Linked DNA regions of Homo sapiens. The protein of the gene in region 1 purifies or fractionates together with the protein of each later gene. This does not show direct contact. Each region holds a gene or a part of one and is shown on either strand. Other genes may lie near its edges. The genes, in order: SBF2 and MTMR1.

What was found.
Region 2: the proteins of SBF2 (region 1) and MTMR1 purify together in Homo sapiens (affinity purification with mass spectrometry; 3 studies listed by BioGRID and IntAct, with this or other methods). This does not show direct contact.

What each region holds. Positions count from the first base shown.
Region 1 is NC_000011.10:9,780,046-9,787,318, reverse strand, and holds part of SBF2 (myotubularin-related protein 13), read left to right. Parts: intron 1-2,000; coding exon 2,001-2,194; intron 2,195-2,880; coding exon 2,881-2,968; intron 2,969-4,209; exon of another isoform or gene 4,210-4,279; intron 4,280-5,680; coding exon 5,681-5,812; intron 5,813-6,743; exon of another isoform or gene 6,744-6,772; intron 6,773-6,802; coding exon 6,803-6,901; 3' UTR 6,902-7,273. UniProt on the Homo sapiens protein: Guanine nucleotide exchange factor (GEF) which activates RAB21 and possibly RAB28. Promotes the exchange of GDP to GTP, converting inactive GDP-bound Rab proteins into their active GTP-bound form.
Region 2 is NC_000023.11:150,688,951-150,696,458, forward strand, and holds the start of MTMR1 (phosphatidylinositol-3-phosphate phosphatase MTMR1), read left to right. Parts: upstream 1-4,445; 5' UTR 4,446-4,580; coding exon 4,581-4,726; intron 4,727-7,508. UniProt on the Homo sapiens protein: Lipid phosphatase that specifically dephosphorylates the D-3 position of phosphatidylinositol 3-phosphate, generating phosphatidylinositol. Could also dephosphorylate phosphatidylinositol 3,5-bisphosphate to produce phosphatidylinositol 5-phosphate.

The DNA.
Region 1 (7,273 bases):
GAATGCCAAGACCACGTTTGCTCCACAGAAAGTATTTTAAAACAACAAAATATGCTACCCTGTGTTGTTCACAGTCCCTTTTCTGTTTCTGACTTAAGAAACATTTATCATAAAAATATTTTAACGGCCGGGTGCGGTGGCTCACGCCTATAATCCCAGCACTTTGGGAGGCCGAGGTGGGCGGATCACGAGGTCAAGAGATCGAGACCATCCTGGCCAACATGGTGAAACCCCGTCTCTACTAAAAATACAAAAATTAGCTGGGTGTGGTGGCGCATGCCTGTAATCCCAGCTACTCAGGAGGCTGAGGCAGGAGAATCTCTTGAACTCAGGAGGCGGAGGTTGCAGTGAGTGAGCCGAGATCGTGCCACCACACTCCAGCCTCGTGACAGAACAAGACTCCGTCTCAAAAAAATGTATATATATATTTTAAAACCAAATACTCTGTTTTCTGCTTCTCATACCCCATTTCCTATTTCTGATTTAAGAAACATTTATCAAGCACATAATATGTGGAAGGGTCTGTGCTTAGTACAGTACACACCTTCGTATCCTATTTAATCCACTGTGAGGGAATGGCGTTCCCTCTCCTACACAAGGAACAGGCACAGAGAGCATACAGTGGCAACTGGTAGAGCCACCAATCGAACCCACATCAGACTGGCTCCAAATGCAACAGAAGGGAAATTAGGACAGATGAGTGTTCTGAAGAACAGTTCAGGAAGAAGAGGCCAGCAGGTCAGATGTTACAGAAAGGTCAAGAAGAATGGAGGGTAGAAGAAAACCTTTGTGGTAAAAAAAGAACATCTGGGGCTCTATCTCTTACCCTCAAATAGCAATTCAGGAGCTGTTATCAGACAGACAACAGGTGGGTGATGCCTTAATGCTTTTTTGTTAGAAAAATAATAGTTTATTGATTTTTTCTAATAATGAAAGTAATAATGTTCATTTTTTTGAAAGAACACACAGAAAGTTATAAAAGATGAGAATCACCCATAATTTATAACCTAGAAGTAAACCACTATGCTATCAAACTTGTTTTACCCTTATAAATTCACATATAAAAGAGATTTTCTAGACATACTATTTTAAACCTGCTTTTTCACTCCACGTTGGCATACGTGTCCTTCCAACTGTCACTGTGTATAAACCAGTGTCTGCCAGGCGCAGTGGCTCATGCCTGTAATCCCAGCACTTTGGGAGGCCGAGGCAGGCATGAAGTCAGGAGTTCGAGACCAGCATAGCCAGCATGGTGAAACTCTGTCTCTACTAAAAATACAAAAAATTAGCCAGGCATGGTAGTGTGTGCCTGTAATCCCAGCTACTTGGGAGGCTGAGTCAGGAGAATCACTTGAACCCAGCAGGCAGAGGTTGCAGTAAGCCGAGATCATGCCACTGTACTCCAGCCTGGGCGATAGAGTGAGACCCTGTCTCAAAAAAAAAACCATCAACATCTTTATTTTTTTTGAGATAGTGTCTCACTCTGTCACCTAGGCTGGAGTGCAGTGGCGTGATCATGGCTCACTGCAGCCTCAACCTCCAGGGTTCTGGTGATCATCCCAAGTAGCTGGGACTACAGGCACACACCACCATACCTGGCTCATTTTTAAAATATTTTTTGTAGAAATGGGGCTTCGCCATGTTGCCCAGGCTGGTCTCGAACTCCTGGACTCAAGTGATCCACTCACCTCGGCCTCCCAAAGTGCTAGGATTACATGCATGAGCCACCACGCCTGGTCATAGCAGCATCATTTTTTAATGGCTGTCTAGAATTCCACTGTATGGAAATGCCATAATTTGTTTAATGTCCCTAATAATGGACGTGTAGGTTGTTTCCAGTTTTTTACCACGATAACTAACTCTGAGATTGATACCTTTGTACATTATTGTTGCTTATTAGTCCAGTTTTTTCCTTGAGATAAATATTTGTAAATGAAATTTTCCAGTCAGTAGTTTAAGTGTCTGTAAAGGTTTCCTAGCTCCTGTCCTGTCTTTTTCAGTCCCAAAGACACCTGTCGAGATCCCCAGGAATTGTGTCTACCAACCTACCTTCCTATCAGAAGAGGTCTCTGCTACATCTCCCAGACAGCAGCATGGGGGAGGAACAGAATTCCAGCATCTCCCCATCCAATGGAGTGGAGCGAAGAGCAGCCACGCTCTATAGCCAGTATACATCCAAGAATGATGAAAACAGGTGACATGCTGAACCCTGCTCGCTGTGCTGAAGACTTCCCCACAGCACCTGAGGCTAAACCACAGGTCCCTCAATAAGCTAGGCCTGTGCAGTACAGCCTTTTATAAACTTGAAATGGATTTGCTTTAATTTTTGTAATGTTTTAGATGTTTCTTTGAAAAGACAAAAAACAAAAATTACAACTAAAAATAATTCGAAGAGGTTGTAGTTATTTGTAGTTGAGTCCTGATGGCTCTTATCTCCTGTCTGCCAGAACGTTTGAGGGAACATGTGTCAGCCAGCACTTTGTCAGTGGCACACATCAGAAATCCAGCTTATGCTAGCTGAAGCAAAAAGGAATTTACTCACATAAGCTAGGACAGCCAAGGGTATGCTAGCTTCTCACACAGTATCTTCTATCCACTTCCTGGCTCTGCTTTGCCCTCTCTCTGTGTTATGTCAGTCCCAACATGGCACAAAGGATGGCTACTGATCATTCCAAGCCTCACAGATGTGGTAATCCCAGCAGAAAGCAGCAGTCTTTCCCCAGAGGTCTAGCAGAAAAAATCCAGGGAGAACTCTTATAGGCCATTTTTGAATCATCTAGGGGAAATAGAGACTTGACAAAAACAACAGATATCCCCTCCCCTTTACAGCATTTTGTAAGTGTAAATCAAAATTAACTCTCCTGTCATCATTTCTTCTAGGTCCTTTGAGGGAACACTTTATAAAAGAGGGGCTTTGCTGAAAGGTTGGAAGCCCCGTTGGTTTGTTTTGGATGTAACAAAACATCAGGTAATACTCTTAAAGCCAAAAGAAATTACTTCTGTCTAGGCTAGTCCCAGTCCCTGGCTATTATGTGGCTCTAGCAGACAGATAGATTCCTCATGTACAGACTGCTTTTTTAGTGCCTCTCATATGTAGTCTGGAGGCTCCTCAAGGGCCCCAGATGTCCCTGAGTAAGGGCAATAGCCTTCTGAGGGAGTTTCCCAAGTAGCTCGGCCTGGTACATGCAGGCAGAGGCAGCAACAATTGAGCCCAGAGCATAGAGCAATAGAACTCTTTTTTTAATGCTCAAATATCTCTTGCTGCCTGATCTTAACACCCAGGTGAGGGGATTCCTGAGGTTTTCAGCCAGTTGCATACATACCACATGCACATATAAGCCTATGCCTGTGAACACTCCCCAGAATACAAGTTACCTTCGTCCTCGCAGCAGAAAGCATCCATTCAAAACAGAGGGCATTAATTTATTCTACAAACATTTATCGAACACCACCTCTGTGCCCACTGCTGTACTGGTTACTAAAGGAGGCACTGTTACCCTTCAAAGATGGCAGCAACAGGGGAGTAAAGGGGCCCCAAAAGCGGCAGAAGGGGATGTGCCCACCCAAACTTGGAATTCACCGTGGGCAAGTACTAGACTGGTCCTTGCTGACTATGTCAAGAAATCTTTTGACTACTGTTAGGTTCTTAGCTATTCCTGTAGCAGCCTCTGCAATCCTTAGCATCATAGTCTTTACTCCAGTGATTTCAAGGGAGAGCAGTTCCTACCCAAACCTCCAGCAACTCTGCACCCTGCATTACTGAGAGCTGCATGGTCTCCTGTGTTCTGACTGCAGGCCTTAACTCCACCTTGGGACTGACCACTCAGCCTTGAGGCTGAGGCTTACACATTTTGATTCTCAATGCATTTATCTATAAAATGGAATCTGTTAGGAAAAACCTGAACTGTTACTCCTGTACAGTGCTTTGGTTGGACCTGCATCTAAAAGACTCCTTCCAAATGAAGACTGTATTTGGAGTCCAGCTTTTCCTCTGCTCAAGGAGTTTCATAACGATTACAGAGTCTTTGTGGGACAATATAGATAGATAATTTATGTTCAAATATACAAATGGAAGCCCTGTTAGGGAGCTATACTCTGAAATCATAGAGCCTACACTGTGTAAAAAAGTTCCATTAAGCTTCTAAATATAACATAGGAGAATGTCATAATTTTTCTATAATTTACATCAAATTACACTTGCATTCTTACCAGTCTTCTGGACTTCTTTAACATGAAAGATAGATACAGTTTTTTCCACTTAGCCCTGCTCATACCATGCCTGAGAGGAGAGACAGAGAAAAGTCTCAGGTCAGAGCCACGGTATCAGAAGCACCACTTTCTTGCCATGTATACTAGAGAGTGAAATCCACAGATTATGGCCCAATAAGGCTTATTCCCTAGCAGTCTCTTTGACTTTTTTCCTTTTTTCTTTTTTTTTTTTTTTCTTTTGAGACAGAGTCTCGCTTTGTCACCCAGGCTGGAGTGCAGTGGTGCAATCTCGGCTCACTGCAAGCTCCACCTCCTGGGTTCTCGCCATTCTCTGGCTCAGCCTCCCGAGTAGCTGGGATTACAGGCGCCTGCCACCATGCCCAGCTAATTTTTGTATTTTTAGTAGAGACGGGGTTTCACCATATTGGTCAGGCTGGTCTCAAACTCCTGACCTCAAGTGATCCACCCGCCTCAGCCTCCCAAAGTGTTAGGATTACAGGCATGAGCAACCGTGCCCGGCCTGGAAAGATGTTTCAATAGGCATAAACATTCTAAATTTTAGTTGATATTGCCAAATTGTTCTCCAAAAAATTTCTAACAAATTATATTCACACTGGCAGTATTTGAGATGATCTAGTACCTTATTGGATATCATCAGCCATTTTTAATATTTCTCAATCCAAAAGTGAAATCTCATTTATTGTCATTTATTTTTCTTTGATTAATGAGGTTGATCATCTTTTCAGATGTTTATAGATCATTTGTATTTCTCTGTGACTCGCCTGTTGAGATATTTTGAGCATTTTTCTACTTTATCTTTTTCTTATCAATTTCTGGGAATTCTGTATATTACTAAACATTAGCCCTCTTTTTATATGTTACATATACTTTTTACAGTTGTTACTTGACTTCTTTTTTTTTTTTTTATTTTTTGAGACAGGGTCTTACTCAGGCTGGAGTGCAGTGGCAGGATCTCAGCTCACTGCAGCTCGACCTCACAGGCTCAAGCAATCCTCCCACCTCAGCCTCCTGGGTAGCTGCAACTACGGGCATGCACCACCACGATTGGCTGATTTTTGTATGTTTTTGTAGAGACGGGGTTTCACCATGTTGCCCAGGCTGGTCTCGAACTCCTGGGCTTAAGTGATCCGTCCACCTTCACCTCCCAAAAAGGACTGGGATTACAGGCATAAACCACCATGCCCAGCCTTGATTCTATTTTTTAAGATGTAATACATTTATTTGTTTGATTTTCAAACAGTACATAAGTCTTTCCCCCAATGCTTTCTCCAAGCCACCTAGTTCTTCCTAGAAGCAACAAGTATTATTAATTAATTTTTTGTGTATTCTTCGAGGCATAGTTCAGCATATATAACCAAGGTACAGAGGAAGGTATTCAAATGCAGTTTGAAAAGCCATGGCATTTTCTCTTTCTGTCTCTTATATCTCACTTGTATCCTTTTGGTTCCAGCTGCGCTACTATGACTCAGGTGAGGACACAAGCTGTAAAGGCCACATTGATCTGGCTGAAGTAGAAATGGTCATCCCTGCTGGCCCCAGCATGGGAGCCCCAAAGCACACAAGTGACAAGGCTTTCTTTGATGTAAGTTGATCTTACTTCTCTTTTCCTGGCTCTGTCTGCACATCATTCTGTCTGTCTCCAAGAATGATGGAGCCCTCAGAGTAATTGGTGGTGACTACAGATGGATGACAGACCCCCTTGGCTATGGGAATTGTTCCAGAGCTTGAACTCAGCATTATTGACCCCCAAGGCTATCCTCTCTTCCTGTCTGTATGTCTCAGAAAAGCTACATATTGCTTTGTGCAAAAGGAGTCCAGCGCACATGGAAACAGATGAACTCCTTGTTAAATGTTGTTAGTTATTTCAGTCACCACCTACTTTCAAGAACAGATGCTATTTCCCTAGTATTCAGTGGTCTTCGTGCTTGACTACCCACAAAAGACTGTCCTTAGTCACACATGATAAGTGTCTACGCTAACATCTTCAGCAGCCCTTAGGTAGGCCATGGGGCACTTTATAGGCCACATAATAGAAGGAGACTTATGTAGTCCCTGGAGTCAAGCAGGGCTTTATAAAGAGGATAGGTCATCCTCTATGGCCCTGCTCAGGCCATGAGACCGTTTTCCTGACAGTGGGCTTCCAATATGGCTCCAACTAAAGAAAGGGGACACGAAGGCCAACTTTATGGTATGCATGAATCTCAGGCATCCCCCTGGAGCACAAGGAGCTCCCTCACCTTCAGTGCATTGGTGCAGTGCATGGGAAAGGTTAAAGGCACCATTCATTGCTGACCCTTCCTCCTTAGTCAAAGACGACACTAAGAAAATGCAAAATAAGGCGCTCCCAGTGTGTCTCCCTTTCCTGCCAGTACCCTTCTATCAACATCCCCTATGACTCTAGAGACCACAAAAGTAAAGGCAATAACAGTATGGTAGTTGAGGAAGAAAAATTCATACAGACGTTCTGGGGCAGTATGGAAAAGAAAGGTCACAGGAACTGATTTACCACTTACCCAAATCCATAAAACAGCCCTGCCCTTCATCTCTGGTTCACTGTCATTTGGTTTTGTAGCTCAAGACCAGCAAACGTGTGTATAACTTCTGCGCCCAGGATGGACAGAGTGCCCAGCAATGGATGGACAAGATCCAGAGTTGTATCTCTGATGCCTGATGCCCATGGTCAACCCACGCAGAAGAAACAGAAGAACTCATGCTGCCAGATAGATAGAAAAAGAAGCATGGATCCTTGAGGAGCTGACAACAAGTTATCCCAGGGCCTGAGGTTCTCCTGCCCAGTCCCCTCTTGCAGGGGTTGCTATATCTACTTAACCTGAATAGGTGTTTCACACAGGTCTGGTCAACAGCCCCATGCACTCCCTGTATCTTGCACTAAATTTTTCTAACAGGGTCTTAGTGGTTAATGATCAGAAGATGTCTCCTGAGCCAACTGTGAACCTCACCCAGGCAAAATGGCTACCACCTACTTGGGTCCTTCTTCATGAAAGCTATAGATCCTTTTTTGTTCTCTGAGGTCATAATTTCC
Region 2 (7,508 bases), on another chromosome or scaffold:
CCACCACACAACTCCAGCTCCAGGTGGCATACAAAAACCATGTGCCTGTCCTCTTAGAGTGATTTCTAGGAATGCAGTATAGTCAGCCCAGCAACTATGACTAGACCCCCATGTGGGCAGAAGGGGGTGGTAGGGCCTGTGTGTGTTTGGAGACAATTCACCATGACTATCTCCGGTTTCAGCATGGTCAGGGTTCTCTGAGGAAATACATTTACAGCCACGTTAGTAAAGTTGGTATGAGGAGACATTCCAATCCAGGGTAGTAAATGTAAATCTCCACAAAGGACATTTGTTTACATCTGATCATTCATTCCAAGGTAACGAGTAATCTCTCTCCCTGCAGGGGAGAATGGGTAGGTCACTAGTAGCCAGAGTTTCCTGCGTTGGGGTTTTCTCTCCTGTGGTGTATCCCATTACATGTGCAGATACTATCTAGCCTCCTATTGGTCAAAGGCAGTTACAGGCCAGCCCCCATTCAAAAGGAGGGGAAATAGGTACCACCTGTTTTTGTTTTGTTTTGTTTCGTTTTGTTTGAGACGGAGTCTCGCACTGTCGCCCAGGCTGGAGTGCAGTGGCAGGATCTCAGCTCACTGCAACCTCTGCCTCCTGGGTTCAAGCGATTCTCCTACCTCAGCCTCCCAAGTAGCTGGGATTATAGGCATGTGCCACCACGCCCGGCTAATTTTTGTATTTTTAGTAGAGATGGGCTTTCGCCACGTTGGCCAGGCTGGTCTTGAACTCCTGACCTCAGGTGATCTGCCCACCTCGGCCTCCCAAAGTGCTAGGATTACAGGCGTGAGCCACCACGCCCAGCCGATACCACCTCTTAATGTAAGAGTGGCAAGGTTGCACTGCAGAACAGCATGCCACCCTGTAGAGACTGGGGTTCAGGATGCAGATCCAAGATATTGCTGTGGCTGCTGATTTTGCTGTGAATAATAAACTGTCTTTGTTTCGGATCCAGAGGCTTTATATTTTCTCTCAGAGTGTTAGAGTGTGGTGATCAACTAAATTTTCAGCTTGCTAGTAGGGTAAAATCTTAGATTATAACAGCTTCTGACCTACTACTGTGGAGTACCCTCCTTGGAGTGTGGCTGTGATTTGTGCATGGATTCCTATAGCTGAATGGGGAAGGGAGCTGAGCAGGTAGGGGATTACTTCTCTGGATCATTCATCAAGAGCAATGCTTGGGTGCTCTATTGCTGCACAAAAAATCACCCCAAAACCTAGTGGCTTAAAACCATAATTCATTAGTTTTCAAAAATCTGTGAGTCAATTGTATGATTCATCAGCTTCATGTGGTGTTGGCTAGGCCACCAGAATGACTGAAAGGCTTGAAATGGCCTCACTCACATAGCTGGCAGTTAGTGCTGGCTTCTGGCCATGCTGCCTGGGGAACTCAGCTAGGGCTATTGGCTGAGAGCTTTGGTTCTCTTCCATATGGGCCTCTCCCTGTGGCTGCTTGGGCTTCCTCAGAGTATGGCAGCTGACTTCCAAGAAGGAGTATGCACAGAAAGCAAACTGGAAGTTGCAAATCCCTTAAGGGTTAGCCTTGGAAATTATACAGCATCACCTCTGCTACATTCTATTGGTCAAAGGGGTTACAGGGCCAGTCCACATTCAAGGAGAAGGTAAACAGAATCCACCTCTTGATGTATGAGTGGTAAGATCACCTTGCAAAAGAGTGTGTGGGATGGGGGATATTATTGCAGCAGTCTTTGGAAGCACAATCTATCAAATGGACGTAGATGGGGGACTATACAATAGTATTTCTCCAAGTGCAGCAAGCCCCGCATCAGAATCATGGGAGCATTTGCTGAAAATGCAGACTGGGGCTGATTCTTGCACACTAACATTTGAGATCTGGTGAGCTGCAGAACAAAGCCCAAACTTCTTGGCCTACCACCAGTCCAGATCCTCACTTATCTTGTCTGACTTTATGCTCCAGTAACACTCGATTTCTTGGCATTCTCTTGCACATAATAAGCTATTTAACCTACAGATAGAGTTTGGATGTTTGTGCCGTCCAAATCTCATGTTGAAATGTGAGCCCTAATGTTGGAGTTGGGGCTGAGTAAGGGGTGTCTGGGTTGCAAACTGGATTGTGAACATCCTGAAGGTGGACCCCTCAGGAAAGGCTTTGTGCCCTCCCCGTGGTAATGAGTGAATCCTCGTTCTATGAGTTCATGCAAGAGCTGGTCGTTTGAAAGAGTCTGGTGCCTCCCTCACCTTTCACTTGCTCCTTCTCTCACCATTTGACATGCCTGTTTCCTCTTCGCCTTCCACCATGATTGTAAGCTTGCTGAGGCCCTTACCAGAAGCAGATGCCAGCACAATGCTTCTTGTACGGTCTGCAGAACTGTGAGCCAAAATAAACTTCTTTTCTTTATAAATTACCAGGTCTCTGGTATTCCTTTACAGCAAAGCAAAACAGATTAATATACCTACTAATCCACACCTTTGCCCATAACTGTGCCTTCTGCCTGGAATAACTTGACTCCTTTGCCTCATCAAGGATTTACTCATCTTTAAAGATTCAGTTTTATGTCACCTTTTTGGGGAAGTTTTCCTGACCTCCTCTTCTCCTATGGATTGGGGTAGGTGTTCCACATCCTGTGCAATTGTCCCCATTATAGCACTTGCCAACTTGTAATGTCATTGTTAATTTGTCTGTCCCCTTCACTGGATTGTGAACATCTTAGGCAGGGATATGTCAGATTCATCTCTGTCCTCTAAATCCTAAGTGTACTTAACTGAATTGGAAGTATGACAGTGTCACAGTGAATTCCTCTTTGGCCTAATGTTTCTTAAAGAATATGGTACTTAAAATATGCTTAAAGTTGCACTGTTTTCTTTCTGACAATTCTCAGCACAGCTAAGATGCTTGCAGCTACTTGTAACAAAATACCCAACTAAAAGTGGGTGTCTTAGTGTGCTTAGGCTGCCAAAACAAAATACCATAGACTGGGTGGCTTAAACAACAGAAATTTTCTCACAACTCTGGAGGCTGGAAAGTCCAAGATTAAGTGTCCAGCAGGGACCTAGTAAGGGCTCTGTTCCTGGCTTGCAGATGGCCACCTTCTTGCTGTGTACTCACACGGCCTTTTCTCAGTGTGTGCATGTGAGTGCATGAGATCAAGCTCTCTGGTGACCCTTCTTAAAAAGCACCAGTTCCATCAGACTAGAGCTTGGCCCTCATGACCTAATTGCCTCTCAAAGACCCCATCTCCAAATACCATCACACAGGGAATTAGGGCTTCAACATATGGACTTCAGGGGGATGAAAACATTCAGTCCATAACAGTGGGTTAACCATTTGATTTAATAATTTTAGAAAGCCAGCAACCTGCAGTCGGTGATTCTCCAGTGTGAGATAGGAGCTATTATTGTCTGGGGATCTTCCTTTCCTTCCTCCTAGCCCTCCTCACTCTGTCATCTTCTTACCCCAGGCTCACCTCCTCTTGTGCGTAAGATGGCTGTCGGGGCTTCAGGCATCATATCCTCAAAGTTCAGTTTGAAGTTATTAAGCTGGTGGGGCAGGATGGGTCTGGGATGGGCATGAGTAACTCCCTGTCTGCAGATCTGCCTTTTAACAGTGAGCAAATTGTTCCCTTTATATCTTCTTTTCCAGACCTGGGTCGCAGGCCTCCTGTCTACACCCAGAGCAATCACAGGCAAAGAGGCTTAATCACGAGCCACACACCCACTCCCAACTTAATCAGGGGTGAGGTGAGAGGGGATGAGCTGTTGGATATTCGAACCCAAACAAAATGAGCAAGGAAATAAATCTAGCCCAGAAAGCAAATGTCCTAAATGCCTCACCAAGATATTGGCTTGATGTTCATAGCAGTGATTTTTTAATCAACAGAAGTTAAATGTTACTCTTAACATAAACCATGGGCGGAAGCTCCGAGGGCGGCATCAGAACACTTGGTTGCCCTACAGATGGCAAGGGGGTGGGTTTGTGGCGGGGCGGCGGGGTGCGTATGGAGGGGGAGAGTGGAGGGAAGAATGGGGTGGGGAGGAATTGCTAAAATGCACGGAATTGCTCCTGCTTCAAGATGTCAAGACCGAGGGAGCTTGAGCTGTTCTATACCTTTTCCGGGAAGGACAACTGAGGTGGGAAATCATTTTTGATACTTGAATGTCTTCAAACTTCTTTTTACACCCCACGTCTCTGCAGTCAACCCGGTGTGACTATAGAGTGAAGCACGCTACGCATAATCCGTTTGGGGATTCCGAACCCCAGTGGCTCTGTACGCACCCAGGTCGCTGGAGCAGGAGGTCCCAGATCCCCGCTGTAAGGCTCCGTGGGCGAGCGCCCAGGTGGGGCTGGGCGAGGTGGGGGTTCCCGGCGCCGGCCCCGCGCGCCGCCCTCCCCGCCCCCGCTCCCGCCCCCCGACCCCCGCGCGCGCGGCCTTGTGGGTAACGCGGGGCCGCCAGGTGACAGCTAATGGCGGCGGCCGCCTGAGGCGGGCGGGCGGTATAGAGCGGGCGGCAGGAGGCAAGCAGCGAAACCTTCCCGGCCGCCGCTCCCGTCCCGACGGCGGCTTCCCCAAGGCGGCAGGACTCGGCGCGCCATGGACAGGCCGGCGGCGGCGGCGGCGGCGGGCTGCGAGGGCGGCGGGGGCCCGAACCCGGGGCCGGCGGGCGGCAGGAGGCCTCCTCGGGCCGCGGGGGGCGCCACCGCCGGCTCCCGGCAGCCCAGCGTGGAGACCCTGGACAGGTAAGCGGGGCCCGGGCTGCCCCGGCCTCCCGCGCCCCGACTCCCGAGGGCCCCGCGCGAGGCCAGCCCGCCCCCTCCCCGCGCGCTGCGCAGGGCCTGGCGGTGGCGGGGTGGGCGGCCCCTCTTCATCCCCTCTGGGCCCTCCTCCCCCCCACCCCCGGAAACCTCAGCGCCCCATCCGGGGACTGCTGCCCTCGGACCTGCTGCGGGCCGCGCACCTGGCTCACTTCCGCCCCGAGAGCCCCAGCTCCTGGAACCCCGGGAGGGGCTTCGCAGCTGTCAAACCACTTCCGGCGCCGCCACCTGCTGCCCTTGGCGATCGCTTGGCTGTCCCTGCCCAGGCCACCAATCCTCTTGGGAGGGAGATCCCACCCGGGCTCTCCTCTTCTAGCATCACCTTGCCTCGTGTGGTTTTAAGACCCCAATTCTGCTGTGGCTGCTTAGGGTCTTTGATGGGGGGTTGGGAGTGAGGACGGGGAGATGGGACCCCGCGGGCGTGGGAGCTGGTGCAGATCGAGGCAAAAATCTGAGATGGAAAACGTCCAAACTGCTCAGGAGGCAAGAAAACAGAACCATTTACTTTCAGTTCTTCACACTTTGAGGGAACCAGTTTATTGTTTTCATGAACACACAAGCAAGCCTACTGCTTCTGAGGCAGCTGCAGAACTAAGAGAAATCAGTTAGAAACATAAAGTGACCGTGTCGAACTGGGAGGGGCCACCGCCTCCTCCGACGACAAGAGATGGCCTATCGTGTAACCCGGAACATCCAGTTTTCCCACAACTTGGCCATTTCCCTGACACCAGAGTGCACTCAGGCAGCATGCACTGTTGGAATGTAGCTCAGTCAGTTTTACATGCCCATTCCTGCCTGTCTTGGTCATCCCATTGTGCCAAACTTTTGGGAGTTTCCAAAAGCACAGAAACAAGAAACATTCCCTTCACTTTTGTTTCTACCTCAGTGTAATTACAATATATTTTAATAAATTAATCACCCAAGTGGTTAGTGTCACTGAAAACCAGTCACAGCTAAGACAGCACTTGAAATGGTGAGGACTTCACTCATCTGCAAATATTCAACCACACACGAGGTCTGGGCGATTCAGAGAATAGCACAACACGGCTTTTGCTGCCTTACCATTTTGCTAGACTTACCATCTAGTGGAGAATACAAACCAACCAACAGTGGAAATCGAATGTGATAAATGAGATAGGTGGTAGAGGCGAACACAGAAGTACTCAGGATGGGCATGCATCAGAATCATTTAAGAAGCCAAAGGAGACCAGAATGTGTCACCCCCAAATATGCCTCATCTTCTGGTTTCCTTCAGAGATTTTGATGATCAGGGAAAGCCTGAGAAAGCTGACATTTGAGTAATGCCCCCAAAGAGGCGAGGGATCCAGCCATACAGATACCTGGGGGTGATAGTATTCTAGTCAGAGGCCTGTGCAAAGCCCCTGAGGTGAATGTGAGCCAAGTGTTCCTAGATCAGCGAGGAGACTAGGTGTCACTAGCAGGGAGGGAGCTAGGGAGAGACAAGTAAGGGATGACGTTAGAGAAGTCACAGAGCCAGATGGTGGAGAGCCTCAGAGGCCATGGGGAGCCACTGGGGACTTTGTGCAGAGGAGTGACATCATCTGTTGTAGATTTCAGTAGGCTCTCCATGGTGCTATGTGGACAATAGAGTGAAAGGGGAAGGAGCTGAAGCAGAGACTGTCAGTAGGAGGCTATTGTAGTAAGCCAAGTGAGATGGTGGTCCAGAGTGGAGCGGAGGAGGGGAGAAGTGGTCAGATACTACATGTAATTTGAAGACCTGCAGGGTAGAGCCAATGGGGTTTGCTGAAGATTGGTTGGTTGGTATGAGAGAAGAATCTGGGAGAATTCCAAAATTTTAGCTTGTGGGAAAATTGTGTTGCTGAGATGGAGAAGTCTTTCTAAGGTGGAGCAGGGTTAGAAAATAGCAGGCTCTTCGCTCTGGACATATCAATTTTGAGATGCCAATTATATGTCCCAGAATAGATGTCAAAGATATAGTTGATCTATCTGAGCCTGGAGTTCAGGGTTGTCTGGGCTGGAGATTCAAACTGGGGAGTCATGGGCTTATAGATGAGGCTTAAATTCATGAGGCAGGTGGAGTTCACAGAAGAATGATGGAGGTCTGGAAAAGGGAATTGGGCTAGGAATAGGGCTGGGTGGATTTTCAAGATGCTTACCAGGTAAGAGTGACCCGACATGGTGAGCATTCAGATGTGAGGGGGGAGTGCCGGGTGGACTCCAAGGCAAACCTCAGCTTTCTAGCGTGTGGGGGCCGGATAACTGGCTGTGCTGCGCCCTGAGTTAGGAAACACAGGAGCAGAGTAGGTTGCGGGGCTGAGCGGCTGATGCTGGTTTAGACAGGTTGAATTGGCAGGGTCTCTGGGCCAGACTAGTGGACAGGTCTTGTAGGAACATCAGCATTGAGATCAGGAGAGTCCAGGTTGGAGAAACAGAGCTGGGAGCCTCCAGCCTGTAAGTAGTTATTGACACCAGGAGTATAGAGGGCAATTGCACAGACTACAGAGAAGGGATGGGGGAGGAATCATGGCCTCCTTTCTCAGTTCTGTCAGCTCAACAAGCTCAGATTCACACTTTTCTTTGAAGAGTGACCTCTAGAATGGAACCTGGCTCTATGGGTGGGACTTGGCCATGTCCCTGGGACTATGGGGCCTTCACTTCTCTTCTGAATACTGTAATTAATAATGAGGAAGCTGTGGTCCTGTAAGAGGATGTGTCTTGCCAAAGA